2 separate regions of the Homo sapiens genome follow, and region 2 is linked to region 1. Evidence: fine-mapped expression QTL. Tissue or cell type: whole blood. Region 1 holds a variant in brackets; the other region holds the start of a gene. All regions are shown on one strand. Distances are from middle to middle.

Region 1 (8,102 bases):
GAAATGGGACTGGCAACACAGGCCCACATAGTCCATCATGAAGCCAGATGTCAAAGCACTTGGATTTCTCAGGCCCGTACCCTTTTTTTTTTTTTTTAGATGGAGTCTCACTTTGTTGTCCAGGCTGGAGTGCAGTGGCGAGATCTCCACTCACTGCAACCTCCGCCTCCCAGGCTCAAGCAATACTTGTACCTCAGCCTCCTGAGTATCTGGGACTACAGGCGCACGCCACCAACCCGGCTAATTTTTTATATTTTTTGTAGAGGTGGGGTTTCACCATGTTTGCCAGGTTGGTCTCCAACTCCTGACCTCAAGCAATCCACCCACCTTAGCCTCCCAAAGTGCTGGGATTACAGGCGTGAGCCACAGTGCCCAGCCAGGCCTGCTCCCATTTTAAATCCACCCTTGTCCCTCCCATCTCTATCAGATTTGTACAACATTGCCAAGCTGATAATTCCTAAAGAGACGTCATTTAAGTTTCCGTACCCTTGGTTCTTAGTTGAACCTGAGAACTTTTTCCTGTTTACTGGCCATGAGTGGTTCCTTCTTTTGCCAATTACTTGTGTATTTCTTTGGCTTATCCTTCCCTGGAGCTGTTTATTGCTTCCTTATTAATTTGCAAGTGTTCTTCCTGCATTAAGGGCATTAACCCTTTGTCTCCCATCTTTTCTGTAGTTTGCTGTTTCTTTTTCCTTTATAGCATATGTTCATCTGTTTTTTAATTAATTCATTCATATTTATTGAATAACTTCTGTGTGGCAGGCACTGTTTGGGGCCCTGGGGACACAGCAGTGAACTAAACAGACAGTCCTTGCTCTCTTGGAGCTCACATTCTAGTGGGAGACAAACACGAAACAGAATAAATTAATTGTAGAATATGGTAGAAAGTAGTAACTGCTACAGAGGAAAAATATAGGAGAGAAAGGATGTAGGGAGTGATGAGAAGAAAAGGCCTCATGGAGAAGGTAATACCTTCTTGAGCAAAGGTGGAAGGAGGTTAAAAAGCAAGGTATGGTCCAGGCACTGTGGCTCACACCTGTAATCCCAGCACTTTGGGAGGCTAAGGTGGGAGGATCACTTGAGCCCAGGAATTTGAGACCAGCCTGGACAACATAGTGAGACTCCACCTTTACAAAATTTTTTTAAATTAGCTGGGTGCGGTGGTGCGTGCCTGTAGTCCCAGCTACACAGGAGGCTGAGGTGGGAGGATCCCTTGAGCCCAGGTTGCAGTGAGCCAAGATCGAGCCACTGCACTCCAGCCTGGGTGGCAGAGCAAAACCCTGTATCAAGAAAAAAAAAAAAAAGCAAAAGAACTGGGGGAAGAGCATTCCAACATGCCAGACAGCAGAACAGCATGTGCAAAGGCCCTGAGGCAGAGTGGGTCTGGGGTGCCTGAGAAGGCCAGTGTGGTTGGAGAGGCTCAGGGCAATCGGTGGGAAAGAAGTAAGAGAGGAAAAGGCGCCAGGTCACACAGGGTCTGGAAGGTTGCGGTTAGGACTTTGGCTTTTGCTCTGCATGAGAAGGGAACCAGCAGGGCTGTGTGTTGGGAGAGACGGGTGGGACTGTTTTAACAGGTTCACTCTGAATGCTGAGCATAGACCGCAGTGGGGCTGAAGCAGGAGGCCAAGGGCAAAGGGACTTTGTTGTGGTGGGTGTGTTTTAGGGTTTTCCTTCCTTTTTTTTCCTTTTTTCTTTAAATTTCTTGCAGTGATTTTATGCTTTTATTTTTAAAAAATCCACATTTTCTTTCTCCAGATCTTCCATAAGTATTACATTTCAGGGGTTTGAAAATGTTAAAGTACTGACAGGTACACTGTGAAGTCAAGGACCCCACCAGGCCCCTGGCTGCCCACCCTCCCCCACTTTTCTGCCCCGCTAGCCACTGGTGTGCAGTGACTGTCACCCCGCCTCACCGCTGCTGCAAGGTCAAACCAAACACTCCCCCCACCCTGCCCCCCACCTGAAGCACTTCCTGCCCTGCTCCCTGGGAGACCAAACCACACACACTCCTGTCTGCACGTGGCTGCCCCGGGCCGTGGGAACAGCCGGTCCTGCCCTCCCCTCCCCTACCTGACCGGTCCTCCCTGCCCCCAACCATCTCCTCCCGTTCCTTCCCCCGCAGAGAGCTGGGCAGGCTGGAGGACCGGGAGGGTTGAAGAGTGACCCCCGCAGCCCCCATACCTCTAGATAAATCTGAGCCTCCAATACCACTCACACCTCAAAATGTCTCCCGAGGGGACTTTTACATCCTTTAATCTCTAGAACATGGAAGTAAGGGGTCTAGAAGACAGAAGTAAGGGGTCCCATTTCACAGAGGGGACACTGAAGCCCAGAGAAGCTCAGAGGTTTGTCTAGGCAGACGGAGGTGCTGGGGTAAGGAAAGGGGAAGTGAGGACCCCAGACAGCAGCTGAGGAGGAGTCCATGGGCACCTGGTCCCCCGGGCTTGCAGCGATGTCCTTCAAGTCTCTGCAGTGGGGGTGGCGGCAGGGACTTGGCCCCAGGCTGTGTTCCCCAGGACTGTGGGGGGAGGAGGGGGAGAAGGCAGCTATGAGGCAGAGACAGCCCTGAAAGTGGGGAAAGGTGACAGGCTCACACCCCTAGAAAGGAGAAAGGGAGAGGGTGGGGGGTCCCTAAAGCACTGTTCAACTTCCTTCTCCCCATAAAGTGACATCCTCACTTCTGCCCCCTCCTCACCCACTTGGCCCCAAATGACTGAGTCCTGAGGCTCCTGGGGCTCTTTGGGGTCTGCTGGGTAAGTGTGAGGTATCCTGAAGGGGGCCAAGGCCAATGGGGGACCTGGAAACTAGCATCAGAGAAAGTAACAAGTCTAGGCCTGCTGGGGGTGGGAGGGGAGAGATAAGGAGACCAGACTTTGGAGGAGGGAGGGGACTTGGCTGCCCTAAAGGGAGGGTCAGTTGTCAGTGTTTCGGGATCCTGGACCCCTCTAGGGGACAGAGAGAGGTGGCCAAAGCAGGCCAATGGATCCAGTTAGACAGCCCTGATCTACCCTGCCCAGGCCTGAGCCAGCTCCAGGATCCAGGTCAAAGACTTCAGCCCACCTGTAGAGCACAGAGGGCTCTCTAGGCTGGCTCAACTCCAGATGGCTCCACAGACCAACCTGGCAGGGTCAGCCCTGGCCCCTGACTCGGAAACTCCAGGACCCAGTGCCAGCTGCACCACCAACCAGCTGGGTGACCTTAGTGAAGTCATTTCCCTTCTCTGGGCTTCAGTCCCATCATCTGCAAAATAAATGACAAATAGAGTTCATCTCATGTGCCATCTCTGCTCCAGGGCAGTGACTTCCTGGAGCACTGTGTTGAGGAGGATTCTGAAGTTGCATCTTGGCTTAGCGGTAAGGCATGCCGAAATTGATTAGTAATGCCTGCTGTGGGTGCTAGGAGGACAGTAGTGGTATGCACTCATATATTTGACATTCCTGCTCTAACTTTGTCTGGCAGAAGAGGCGG[C/T]GTGGACCAGATCATACAGGGCCTGGTCATGCTTAAAGAGGGATAACATTAGGAGATATATCTAATGTAAATGATGAGTTAATGGGCGCAGCACACCAGCATGGCACATGTATACATATTTAACAAACCTGCACGTTGTGCACATGTACCCTAGAACTTAAAGTATAATTTTAAAAAAAGACTATAATGTCAGGTCGTGATTAGTGCTATGAAAAAAGAATTCAGTAAGGTAAGGACAAAGATGGGCTTTTTAAAAATAAAGTGGTTGCGGCCAGGCACAGTGGCTTATGCCTGTAAACCCAGCACTTTGGGAGGTCGAGGAGGGAGGACTACTTGAGCCCAGGAGGTCAGGTCCAGACCAGCCTGGGCAACACAGCGAGGCCCTGTCTCCTCAAAAGTTTTGTTGTTGTTGTTGTTGTTGTTGTTTAAGCTGGGTGTGGTGGTGTGTGCCAGTAGTCCCAGCTACTCAAGAGGCTGAGGTGGGAAGATCGCTTGAGCCCAGGAGTTCAAGACTGCAGTAAGCAATGGTTAAGCCACTGCACTCTAGCCAGGACAACAGAGCAAGATCTTGTCTATAAATAAATAACTAAATAAAGTGGTCGGGAAGGTGTCTCAGATAAGCTGACATTTGAGCAGAGACCTGTGCTAAGTGAGGGAGTGTGCCATGAGGATATCTGGGAAGAGCACCTTGGGAAAGGGTCAGCAAGTGCAAAGGCCCTGGGGTGGGAGTGTGCCTGGCATGCTTGAGAAAGAGCAGAGAGACCAGGGTGGCTGGAGTGGAGTGGGAGAGGGGTGAACACATAGGAAATGAGGTTCAGAGGGTAGATGGGGGCCAGATCAGGAGGCCAGGTGTTAACTGTGAGCAAAGTGGGAGCTGCAGGAGGAGTGAGAGCAGAGGACAGATGGGATCTGATTTGGGACTGGGAAAGGCAGAGAGGCTTGCATGGCAGTGGGGCCCATGCCTGCCTTCTGGTCAGAGTAGATTTCGGGGAGGGCCTGAGGGACTCCTCAGGTCCTGTGCCAGCCTGGGCCCCCAAGAAGGCAGAGCTAGGGGTGAAGGCTGGCTCCCCTTCCGGGAGGCCCGCAGGCAGCGGTCGCTTGTCCAGGCAGGAGGATGTTCTCACTGACTCGGAGGAAACAGCGTGTCCCACATCAAAAGGGGGCCGGGTGGCTCCCACGCTCAGGGTTCGTGGGAACTCTGCTACCCTGGGTTCTCGCAGGAGGCCTGCAGTTAGAGAGAAGCTGGAGACTACCTCGGGACTGTCCCCCAGGCTCACTGATGGGTAAATAAATAACAGTCCCACAGTGACACCCCACTCACAGTGCTCTTCCCAGGAGCAAGACTGACTTTTGTAATCTAGGGCTATGTGGTATTTAAGGGGCTCCAGAAATTTTAGGGCAGCTGAGATCTAAATCCTTCCCTTCCTGGAGTACCCTCTGTCTAACTCCTAGACCAAACACTCAGCAAGAGCAGGGTTACCCACTGGGCCAGACTGGGCATTATATAGACCTGGGGTAGCAAACTGGCTATACTGATTGATAGAGGCTGCTTGGAGAGCTGTACTGAGGACTCTGCTAAGCTTGAGAGAGTGCTGTGATGGATTAGTGATGTCTGCCACAGGCAGGAGACCAACCAGTGGTGGTATGCATGCTCAATATTTTTCTTTCCACCCAATTTATAGGTAGTCCTGGAGAAAAAAAGAGATACTTTCTTCTTGTGAGGCAGAAAGGAAGAAAGAGGGGTGAGGCAGACCTAGACTTAACCAGGTTGTCTGCACTAGAGGTGCTTGAAGAATGGGCAGGAAAGAGGAAAAGCTTGAGGGAAATGCCTCTATGCATTCCTATAAAAGTATAGAGAGGGAGGAAGTTAGAGTGGTGACAGCTGCCCCCCTGAGGAAGGCCCTGGAGGATTATGACAGACCCTGAGAAGGGTCAAATGAATACTCAGTGCCCCTCTTCCTGGGGCCCCCCCGCAGGGTGCCCGACAAGAAAATCAAGACACCTCCACTCTCATCCCTGCGCCAAATGATGAGCTTTACATGTTTTAGCACATTTAACTTTCACAGGACTCTATCCCCATTACAGGTGGGGAAACTGAGGCACAGTGCTTTCTTCCCACCTCCACTGACCAGGTCCTGGGGGACCCAGGGTACCCGCCATCCCATCCTGCCTCCCTCGGGAGCTGTGTTCATTGACTTCCATCACACCGGCGCCTCCTCAAGGGGCTCAATCCAGATGTCTGCTCCAGACCTCTCCACAGCCCTCAGAGGGGTCTGGGATGGGAGTCCTGGCCACGTGATACTATCCTGTATAGCCGAGCAGCCACCAAGTGGGTGTGTGTGCGCTGCACCTGTGTGCATGTGTGATTGTGCCTCTGCATGTGTGCAGGTGTGGGCCTCCCAGGCTGAGTGTCTGTGTGTCAGTGTCAGGAGGTGTGGGTCAGAGCATGTGCGCATGTGTCCTCGTGTGCAGTGAGTCAGCGTGTCCTCCTGCGCCCCCATGCATGATGTGAATCAGTACGCACGAGTACTTCCCCACAGGCGGTGCGGAATCGTGTGTCCGCGTGTGGACGGCAGGCCGTTCTGCAGGCTGCAGCGCGCCGGGGGCTTGTAGGGCTGAGCGCATGCTCCTCTGGGTTTGCTGCCCACCTTACCCAGCTCTGTGCAGCTGGGGAGAGGGGCGGCAGTAGCAGGTGCGGTACTGGTCTACATGAGCCACCGACTCTTGTCCAATGGAGTATCCTCCCAGGGGAGAGCTGTGTGTGCTTCTGTGTGTATGTGTGTGTCCCCGTGTGTGCACAAGTCTCTGTATGTAGGTGTGGGGAGGCATTCCCTGGAATATGTGAGTGTGTGTGTATCTTAATCCATGTATGTTTGTGGGGGGCGTGCCCTGAAGTGTGCCTGTGTGTATCCATGTATATGTTCATGGTGTGCATTCCCTAGTGTGTGCGGTATGTTCCCCAAGTAGACGGATGGGGAGGGAGGCTCCCTGGTATCTGTGTGTCTGTGTGTGCATGTATCTGTGATGTACTCCCTGGGTTGTGTGTGTTTGTGTGTCTGTGTACTTAAACATGTGTGTGTAATGTGTCCCGGGGAGTATGATAAGTCTGTGTGGTCTTCTCCATGCATGTGTGTATATTTGGATCTGTGGATCTGTGTGGATGGTGTGTGCCCTGGGTGTGTATGTCTGTGTGTCTGCACCCACTGCAGCAGTACCCAAGCCTGCCAAGGGCACCATTTGCTTGAAGATGCTTTCTGGTGCCAACTGTGCCTGCCAAGGACAGGTGACCAGACAGCATTAGACAGGCTGTGACCTGAACAGGCACGGCCAGAGCCAAGGGGGCTGCTGCAGCTCCTTCTCCAGCTGTCACTGCTCCCAGCCCTTCCTGCCCCCTCTCCTGGCACATCCCCCAAGGCCTTCAGGCTGACCCCTGGATTTCAGAACACCCCTCTTCATCAGAACGTATCCAGCCTGGGTTCCATGCCCATCAACAGCAAGACACCAGTTCCCCTGCATAAACAGGTGCTGAAGTCAGGAGGACTCAGGCAGACACACTGTACACATCACCGCAAGCTCTCCTTCAGTCCTCCCAACGACTATAAGTGAGGTGTTAATATGCCTGTTTTACAGATAAGGTAACTGAGGATCAAGAAGTTAAGTGACTTGTTCAAGGTTGTCACTGCAGCAGTTTTGTGGTTTCCTCTCTAAGATGGAGAGAAGTTACACCAGGACTTAGTGCCTGGGAAGCAAAGAGGTGAAATTACTCGGCCAGGATTGCACAGCTGACAGTGATGATACCGATGGCTGTGCTTTTAGTAGCTGTTAGGTACCAGGAACTGTGCTTGGCCCTTGACACATATAATTTCACGGAATCCTCACAGCAGATTAAAAAAAAAAAAAGGTACCATATTGTCCCCATTTTACAGACCACCCCTTACAAGAGATGAGATGATGTGCTGTGTGTCGCCCAGCTCATTAGTGGTTGAACTGAGATATGAAAGCAGCTCTGGCTGACTCCAAAAGCCAAAGCTCTTTTGAGGGCCAGAGGAAGAGGAGAGTCAGGATACCTTTTCCTAGGGGCTCTTCATTTGAAGAGAGGATAGTACCTTGTCACAGAAACTGACATCAGTAAATATTCCAGAAGAGAAAAAAAATTCATCACCAAATGCTTTTGAAAACCTGGACTTATCATTGTTAATGATATGTTCTTACGCAGGGCTTGTCAGAGCCTTTAATATGCTCAGATATGTTGTGAATTTCAGAGAGGGAGACAGTGACGTGTTCCTAACTTACTTGATTCCTGAATCCTTCTTTCCTGGAACGTTTTATGGAAATTAATAATGCTACATCTAACAAGCTTTGAGAGATGTTAAAATAGCTACACCACTAGTAGTTGGGTTTCAGGCACAGCGGCCAACGAAAGGAGCCCTCAGAGCCAAAGCGCCCTCTCGAGGGAGGAGCCGGCTGTAGGGTAAGGAGGTGTCTGCACTAAAGTCTAAGGGTGCATCCCATTGGAACCTGGGCGGAGGTCCTGGCCACCCCCGCCCCATAATAGGATGTCAGAGTAGAAAGAGAGTTTCCTGGAGGTAACTGCAGTTGGCAGAGAGGTACAAAGAGGCCAGGGTGTGTGGCCC
Region 2 (8,102 bases), 33 kb before region 1:
TTATGTCTTTTATTCATCATTGTATCTTCAGTGCCTAGAATGGTATCTGGCACATAGCAGGTGCTCAGTAAACATCATCTGATTAGATGAATAAATGGATGGCTCTAAATGGGCCCTAAAAGCTCGCAATATCACATATGATTAGCCCAACTACCTAGAGACAGGTTGACAACCATCTCTCAGTTTTAATCCCTTAAATCCAGGGAAAGAACCATTGGCCAAAGCCTACAAATACCTGGACCCCCCAGCCAACTACATCAGTTTCTGAGGGTGGGGCTTGGACATGGGTAATTTGTATGCACTCTGCAGGAGATTCTCACATGAATCCAGGGTGGGACCCAGTGCTCTGGGGTGGGGAGGGCGTTCATCTCACCATCTCGCCCATAGATGCTCAAGCTGCTTTCAACTCCGGCTGTATGTGAATTTCAGAGCAAGACCCTGGGATGAATCTGTGCTCACCTGGAACCAGCCTCTGCCTGGTGATGGGGAGACACTGCTCCCAGGAACCATGACCTGCACACATGGCCACGAGAGCAGTGCCCACCTTAACCTTGGGCCTGCAGACCCTCCTCGCTAAGCAAAGCCGGCTGTGGATGTCACCCTTCTGAGGCTTCTCCAATTCTACTGCCCATTCTCAGCAGGCAGCAAAAGACCTTTCACCACTCGCACCCCACCAGTGTCCTACAGGCCCAAGGAACACTCTGACTTCCAGGGGCCCCATTTCAGTCCCCAGAGACACCCAAACAGTCCTTCTCACTCTGTTTCCTGTTTTCCACTTAAACTTTTTCTCAACTGCTGAAGGGGAGGTCACAGCTGGTCTGCACAGAAGAATGTAGAGGGCTGGAGAGAAGGGCTCAAAAAAGCCTAACTCACTCGGCTCCACAGGCTGGGGACAGGGGTGGCATGTGTCTCCCAGGGCTCATACCCTAATGCACATGCCCCTAATACGGTCTTCAGTGTTACTCATCTTGTTTTGTGTCCCCTTCCAGACTCTCCTGTACCTAGACCAGGGCTGGACATACAGTAGGTACTCAATAAAGTCTAGTTAATTCCAGGCTCTTTCCAACACAAATCAAATCACATCAAATTTTTAGTAATTCCCATGACTCTTAGAATAAAATTGCAAACCCACACTGGGTCTTATAAGGCCCTGCATGGTAGCTCTGCCTCTTCTGGCCCCAGGCTCACCCCTCTTCTTTCTCAGTGGTTACTTGGTCTCCTTTCTGTTGCTTTAACACACCAAGCGCTTTCCCACCTCTGGGCCTTTGCACATCCCTGTTTCCTCTGATTTAATCATTCCCCCTCCTACCCCACTCAGCCACATTAAGACCTATGAATCCTTCAGGGAGTGGCTGAAACATCAACTCCTCTGAAAAGCCCTCCCTGATTCCTTAGACCTGATAAGACCCCTGTTAGATGTCCTCACGATATCCTGTACTTTTCCCTCATAGTCTTTGCAAAAGTTTGGAATTAGACTTTGTGTGATTCTTGATTCATGTCCGACTTCCTCACTAGACTCTGAGACCCAGGAGGGCAGGGACCATGCTGCTGGTGTCAGCTCTCTATCTCAGCACGTAGCCCAGTGCCTGGCACATAGGAGGGCATCTGGTATTTTTTGGATGAATGGATGGATGGATGGATGGATGAATAAGTGGATAAGAGGAAGGAAGGGGCCGGGTGCGGTGACTCATGCCTGTAATCCCAGCACTTCGGGAGGCCAAGGCAGGTGGATCATGAGGTCAGGAGATCAAGACCATCCTGGCCAACATGGTGAAACCCCATCTCTACTAAAAATATAAAAATTAGCTGGGCGTGGTGGCACGTGCCTCTAATTGCAGCTACTTGGGAGGCTGAGGCAGGAGAATCACTTGAACCAGGGAGTCAGAGGTTTCAGTGAGCTGAGATTGCGCCACTGTGCTCCAGCCTGGTGACAGAGCAAGATTCCATCTTAAAAAAATAAAAATAAAAAGAGGAAGGAAGGAAGGAAGGGAGAGATGGAGGAAGGGAAGCAAGGAAGGTGGGAAATTTCATACATGAATGTATAGATGAATGGATGAATAAATGGATAGATGGATTGATGGATGGATGATGGGTGGGTGGGTGTATGGATGAATGGATGATGGATGAGTGGGTGGATGGGTGAATGACTGGATGGATGGGTGGGTGGGTGGGTGGGTGGGTGGATGGATGGGTGGAATGGATGGATGGAGGATGGGTGGATAGATGAATGGATAGACGGGTGGATGGATAAGTGGATGGTGGATGGCAGAACAAAAAAAATGAGTTGGTCTCTTTCTGCCATCTTTCTGAGCTGCTATAATGGTGCATGTGAACGTCCTGGCCAGTGTTCTCAATAGCATCAACATGCTGAGAAGAGAAGCAAATACCAGGTTGTTTTAGGTTGTGTTCCAAAATCATCATCTAGTTTCTAAGTGTGATGATGAAGTTTAGTTTACATCAGTGAATTTGCAATCATCAATAATCACAGAGCTAGAAAAATCACTGTGGACCTCACAGGCAGGTTAAACAAGTGTACAGTGACAAGCCCCAGTTTGATGTGCAACTCAAAGATCTAGAAAAATGGTACCCCTATCCCCTTTGGTTTCATTGTCCTGACAACCTCAGCTGGTATCAGGGATTGCAAGGAAGCAAGACAAAAATACACAGGAGGGAAAATCCTGGGATTGTTTTTCTAGGGATGTAATAAATTCATATGAATAAAATGCCTCAATGGACCAAAAAAAAAAAAACAGTTCATGATTGATTGCTTTTGCTTTTGTCCTATTGACTTCCCCATTGGTATCTGAGCCATCCCTCCCATGAATTGTGGGCTCCTTGGTGGCCAAATTCCTTCCCTCTCCTTGGAATTCTTTTCTCCCCAAGTTCCCTGGGAGCAGAGTGTTGCATTCCCAGATGTTCCAAACCCAGTTGAGAGGGGCCATTAAGGGCCACTCTGCACCAGATCCTCAGCTGGGTGCCATCCAGTAGTCACTCAACAAACACAGAGGCAGCATGGTGCTATGGGAGGTGCAAAAGCATTTGGGACTCAGACCCTAGCTCTGCCACTTACTCCTTGTGGGAACTTGGGTAAGCTACTTAGCCTTTCTGAGCTTCAGGAGGTTTTTTGTTTCCTTGTGTAAAATGAGGACAACATTACCTTCCTTGTGGGGCAGTTATGAAGAGTAGTAAGTATTATTTAAGTGCCTGGCACATAATAGGCACTCAGTAAATGACACCCTTATGTAATGGGGCACCAGCCACACCACACCAAGATGAATATGATGGCTATCTCACTCTAGCAGGGACAGATTTCATTTAAGAGGCTAATTGTGATACAGGGTGTCATGTCAAGGTATGGGCAAAGGAACACAGAGGAAGATGGGGTGAATTCAGGAAAGGCTTCCTGGAGGAGGTGACATTTAATCAGACCTTAAATAGCATTCGACAGGAAGTCCAGAGACACGAGTTCTTCTTTCCAATTTGCTGCTAAATCACCATGCGACCTTGAGCCAATCTCTTCTCCACTGTGGGATCCCCAGATCCTTCTACAACATAAGCTGGTTGAGCACCTGCTCTGAATCCGTTCAGTCACAGTCTCCTGTGAGAAGAATCTGCTGACAGCCAGAGCCCTTCTTCCCAGACATACAAGACACACAATGCCTAGACACACAAGTTTGCCTGTAATGGGAGAGGGGGACTTCATGGACCCCAGAAGGCCATCCAGGGACCCTAGGCTAAAATCCCAGAACTCAGTGATCCTGTGGGAGTATCGTCAGACTTGGCCCTGCCCTATGCAAAGCCTCTCTCTTTAGTCTACAGCAGGTGAAAGCAAGCAGAATCATTGACCCAATCTGAAAAAGCCCATCCAACACTGGGCTGCAGGTCAGAGCAGGGGCCTGGGGAGGGGAGGTCCCTCCAGCTGGCCGGAGAGCCAGAGCTGGATTCTGGGAAAGCACCCCTGAGCAGCCTGCCCCTGACCCTGCCTAGTGTATCCCCATCTGCCCCGGGGAGGCAGGCGTGGGCTGCTCTGGGCAGGCGCCCAAACAGGCCACTGACCCCCGTCAGCCACCCAGGCTGGAGTTCCCGGACGCATCCTTCATCTTCCCCAATCTAAACACCCCCAGGCCCCAGGTGGTCCACCCCCCTCCCAGCCAATGTGTGTCTCAGCCGCATCCAGCTTGCTGGAGGACAGGGGGACTGGCCATCCCGTTAACACTTGAGCCGCTGCCATTTCCAGCCTTCCCTTCCATCCAACCAATGCTCACCCACCATTTATTGAGCACCAGTTGTTTGCAGGTGGCTGTGAATGACATGGCAGAGGGCCTGCCCTTCTCTTCCTCCAGGATCTCACCTCCTGGCCAGGGTCCCCTCCCCTGGTCCCACCCCTCTCACCTGGAGCAGGTGGGTGCTTTGGGGGAAGTGGGCTCAGGGCTGGGAACTGGGTACTGGCAGGAGATTCAGATCGGGGTTGGTGTCTGGGCATCGCTCTAAGCTTTTGTGATCCTGGGCCTGGCTCTTACTCTCTCTGGCTTCAGTCTCCTCATCTGTACTCTTCAGATTCCACGGTTCCAACTGAGTCTGAATCAGGCCTTGTCAGCACCCTCCCACCCCCAGGAATAGTTAGAGGAGGAAAGGAGGCTAGCTCTGAATGCTTCAAGATCTTTCTTTAGACAGTCTCTGGATCTTATTCATTCATTCAAGCATTTATTGAGCACCTATTCAGTGCCAGGCCCTGGACTGGGAGACTGGAAATAAAGATGACAAAGATTCAAGCCGGTGACTCCTAAACATCCCACTCCCTGCCTCACGCTCTGCTTGGGGTCAGAAGGCCCCTTGGGGTCTCGGGAGGGCCTGGCCGAGGATTTGGGGCGCCCCGAGACTCGCGTGTCAGCGCCGGTGGCGCTCAGGGCCGAGATCTGTCTCCTCCCCTTCCTCCTCCTCCGCCCCCTCCCCTCTCCCTCCCGGAGCACGGCCGAGGCCTCCTCCCACCCGCGAGATCCCGGCGGCCGCCAGCCGGCTCCTGCGTCCGTCCGTCGGCCGGGCAGTCTGTCCACGCGCGGAAAGCTCGGCGCGGCGGCCGAGGGGCCTGGGAGGGAACGGGCGCGGAGGCGGGACCGCGGCTCCCTCCCACTCCGGGGGGAGCCCAGGAGGCGGCGGTGCTGGAGCGCGAGCCGGAGCCGGAGCCGGAGACGAAGAGAGGCGGTGAGAACGCGGGTGCTTAGGGACCCCACCCCCGGCTCCCGCTGGGGGCCCGCGAGCGGCTCGGGGACGTCTGGGCTGGGGAAGCGGGGCTGTTACCCCCAGGGCGGGAGGCAGAGACGATCCAGCTCCTGGCTTCGCCCCCTCCGCGACGCGACCCCCGAGGGGCCCTGGGCCGCGCCTGCAGCGCCGCGCATCCCCGTGCTTCCCGGCGCACCCCAGCGCACCCGGCATCCCCCCGGCAGGGCGAGGGCCCCGGGGGAAGGGAAGGCTCCGGGAGCCAAGGAGGGCGCCCCCCAGGCGGAGAGTCTCGGAAAACCGCGCCCCCGGCCCCTGCCTTCCCTCCAGGCCTGCCCCAAGGGAAAGCGGGCGGGGCGACCCCGTACGCCCCCCTTGCTGTCCCCCTTCGGTTCCCCATTGTTCTCAGCCGAATGCTCTCCTGGGAAGGGGGGAGGGGGTGCTGCGCTCTCCTCTTAAAGGGCCCTCTCCCCTCTTGTCTCCTGGCAGGTCGCGAGCACGAGTGGGGTGGGGCGTGCCCACGGGCCCCCGCCCCCCTCGTCCCCCTCGTCCCCCAGCCCAGCTCCGGAGCCGCAGTCCAGGCGCGCCGCCCGAGGGTCCACGCCGCACCCCTCCCCCGTGCGTTCTGCGGCCACCCAGGCCTTCCAGGACACCGTGGAGAGGGAACAAGGGGGCAGGGACGCCCCCTTCGGCAGGAGCCGTCGGAGAAGGGGGCCCAGACCGGAGGGAGGCGAGAAGCCCCACTGAAGCCGGGCGCAGGGTCTGGGACGCAGTTGGGAGTGCAAAGGGCTGGCTGAGAGCCGCAGGAGCAGCAGGCTGTGGCCCAGGCCTCCTGGGTGACAGGCCCTGTCTGGCGGGGAAGAGGGACCAAGAGACAACACGGAAGAGGCTGGACCTCGAACAGGGGCGGCTGCCTCACTCCCTACCTGAGCCAGCCGAGGGGGCCAAGGACTTTAGAGCTGTTTCCTCCGGCATAAGAGAGACACTTGCTTTCCAGGGCAGCACCCTTTATCGGAGAAGGCTCTACAGGGAAGGGGTCTTTGCAGCCTGGATGGCCATCCCACATTCCTTTAACGGAGGTCTCTAGGCCTCAGAGAGAACCCAGAGTTAGAAAGGAGGCCAGACGGTCCTTGCTGTCCCCCTGGGGAGAGAGGAAGTTGCCGCCTGCTGCCAGGCCCAGGAGGAGCTGGGCCTGCAATAGTGGGGGACCTGGCCCCTGAGGCAGTGGCGGCCATGTCACGGCCAGGCCACGGTGGGCTGATGCCTGTGAATGGTCTGGGCTTCCCACCGCAGAACGTGGCCCGGGTGGTGGTGTGGGAGTGGCTGAATGAGCACAGCCGCTGGCGGCCCTACACGGCCACCGTGTGCCACCACATTGAGAACGTGCTGAAGGAGGACGCTCGCGGTTCCGTGGTCCTGGGGCAGGTGGACGCCCAGCTTGTGCCCTACATCATCGACCTGCAGTCCATGCACCAGTTTCGCCAGGACACAGGTGAGCAGACACCCACCCCATGCCACCCGCCCCGCCGAGCCATCACTACCTTGCAGCGTAGGATGCTGAAAATCCCAGTAAATCTGCTGATGCCAAATCCCTTCCCCATCTCCCTGCCTCACCTCCAGAAAAACAGGGCAGTCTAACCTTGTCCAGTTTAAGACTTGGATTCCAATGCAGCCTCTGAGCAAGCTGTAGGGCCTTGAGCAAGTTGCATCATCTCTCTGAGCCTCAGTTTCCTCATCTGCAAAATGGGTAGATCAATATCTCTCACAGCTGAGTGAGGATTAAATAAAATTGTGCTCACTGAGCACAGAACCTAGAACAGCAGTAGCATGGGATTGTAGAATAAGGGCTTTACATGCACTTCCTCATTTGATTTTTCCCAAGAATCACAGGCAGTAAGTCTGTGTATTGTTGTATTATTATGAGTCCCATTTTATAGATGAAGAAACCGAGTCTCCCAGAAGCTGAGTGATTTAAACTCAGAGCTGGGATTTAAACCCAGGCGGTTGAGTTCCAGAACCAAAGTTCTTAACTGGTATCCTATACTGGCTCCAAGTGTTGGTTTGTGGGGTGGAGTCGTGCTGGTGGTAATTAATTGGGGATGGGGGGCGTTGGTGGTGTTGATGGTGGGGTGAGGTGGCAATGATGGAGGAGACAGTGTTAGCGGTTGTGTTGGTGGTGACTCAGTGATAGTATTGATGGTGGTGGGGTCTTGGTGACAATGGAGGGATGGATGATGGTGACGTGGCAGTGTTGGTGGTGATGTCAGTGATAGCGTTAACCATGGGATTCAGTGGTGTTGGTGACATTGATAGTTGTGTTGGTGGTGGTGCTGGAAGTGGTGTGATGGGGTGGTGATGATGGAGAAAATGAGAGAATGATGTTGGTGGCAGTCTTCGTGGCCATGTGGTGTGGCTGGTAGCCCTGTGTGTGGCTGTTACTTAGTGGTATTGGTGATCCTGTTGTGGTTGTAATGATGGTGATGTTGATGGTTGCGTTGGTGGTAATGTGATGGCTGATGATGGAGATAAAATCGATGAGGTCCCACTCTCAGGCCTACTCTCTTTTGTTCTGGAGATTTGTCATCGTTGGGGAGATCTCCCTGAGTCATTGCCCGGTGGTATCTGTGACAAGCTCCATGGGCAGTGGGGACTGGTGGGGTCCTGCCGTGCAGAAGCAGCCTAGAAATCCTTGGCATGTTTGACCCCCCAAGGACCAGCTGATGGGGTTTGGGGAAGTTCCTATGAATCCCTGGATGACAGAACCACACGTAATAACCCCAGGCTGGTAGGATGCTCGCTTTCCCTCTAGAGCTGTGCCAACCAATATGTTAGCCACCAACCACATGTGGCTACTTAAATTTACATTAATTAAAACTAAGTAAAAT

The links. PIP is the estimated chance that this variant, and not a neighbour inherited with it, causes the effect.
Region 2: DTX1 starts here. The variant in region 1 is fine-mapped to the expression of DTX1 in whole blood (TOPMed, PIP above 0.99).

What each region holds. Positions count from the first base shown.
Region 1 is chr12:113,084,972-113,093,073 of GRCh38, forward strand. All of the region lies in intron 3 of DTX1 (deltex E3 ubiquitin ligase 1), which reads left to right. Among named protein-coding and RNA genes, the nearest start is that of DTX1, 32 kb to the left of the region's middle. RefSeq lists a silencer at 1,853-1,942. The variant C/T (reference allele first, on the strand shown) is at 3,469.
Region 2 is chr12:113,051,743-113,059,844 of GRCh38, forward strand. It overlaps DTX1 (deltex E3 ubiquitin ligase 1), which reads left to right and starts at 4,988. Exons shown (of 10, transcript NM_004416.3): 1 at 4,988-5,202; 2 at 5,707-6,709. The coding sequence starts at 6,451. It also overlaps the pseudogene RPS15AP32. RefSeq lists an enhancer at 6,226-7,014.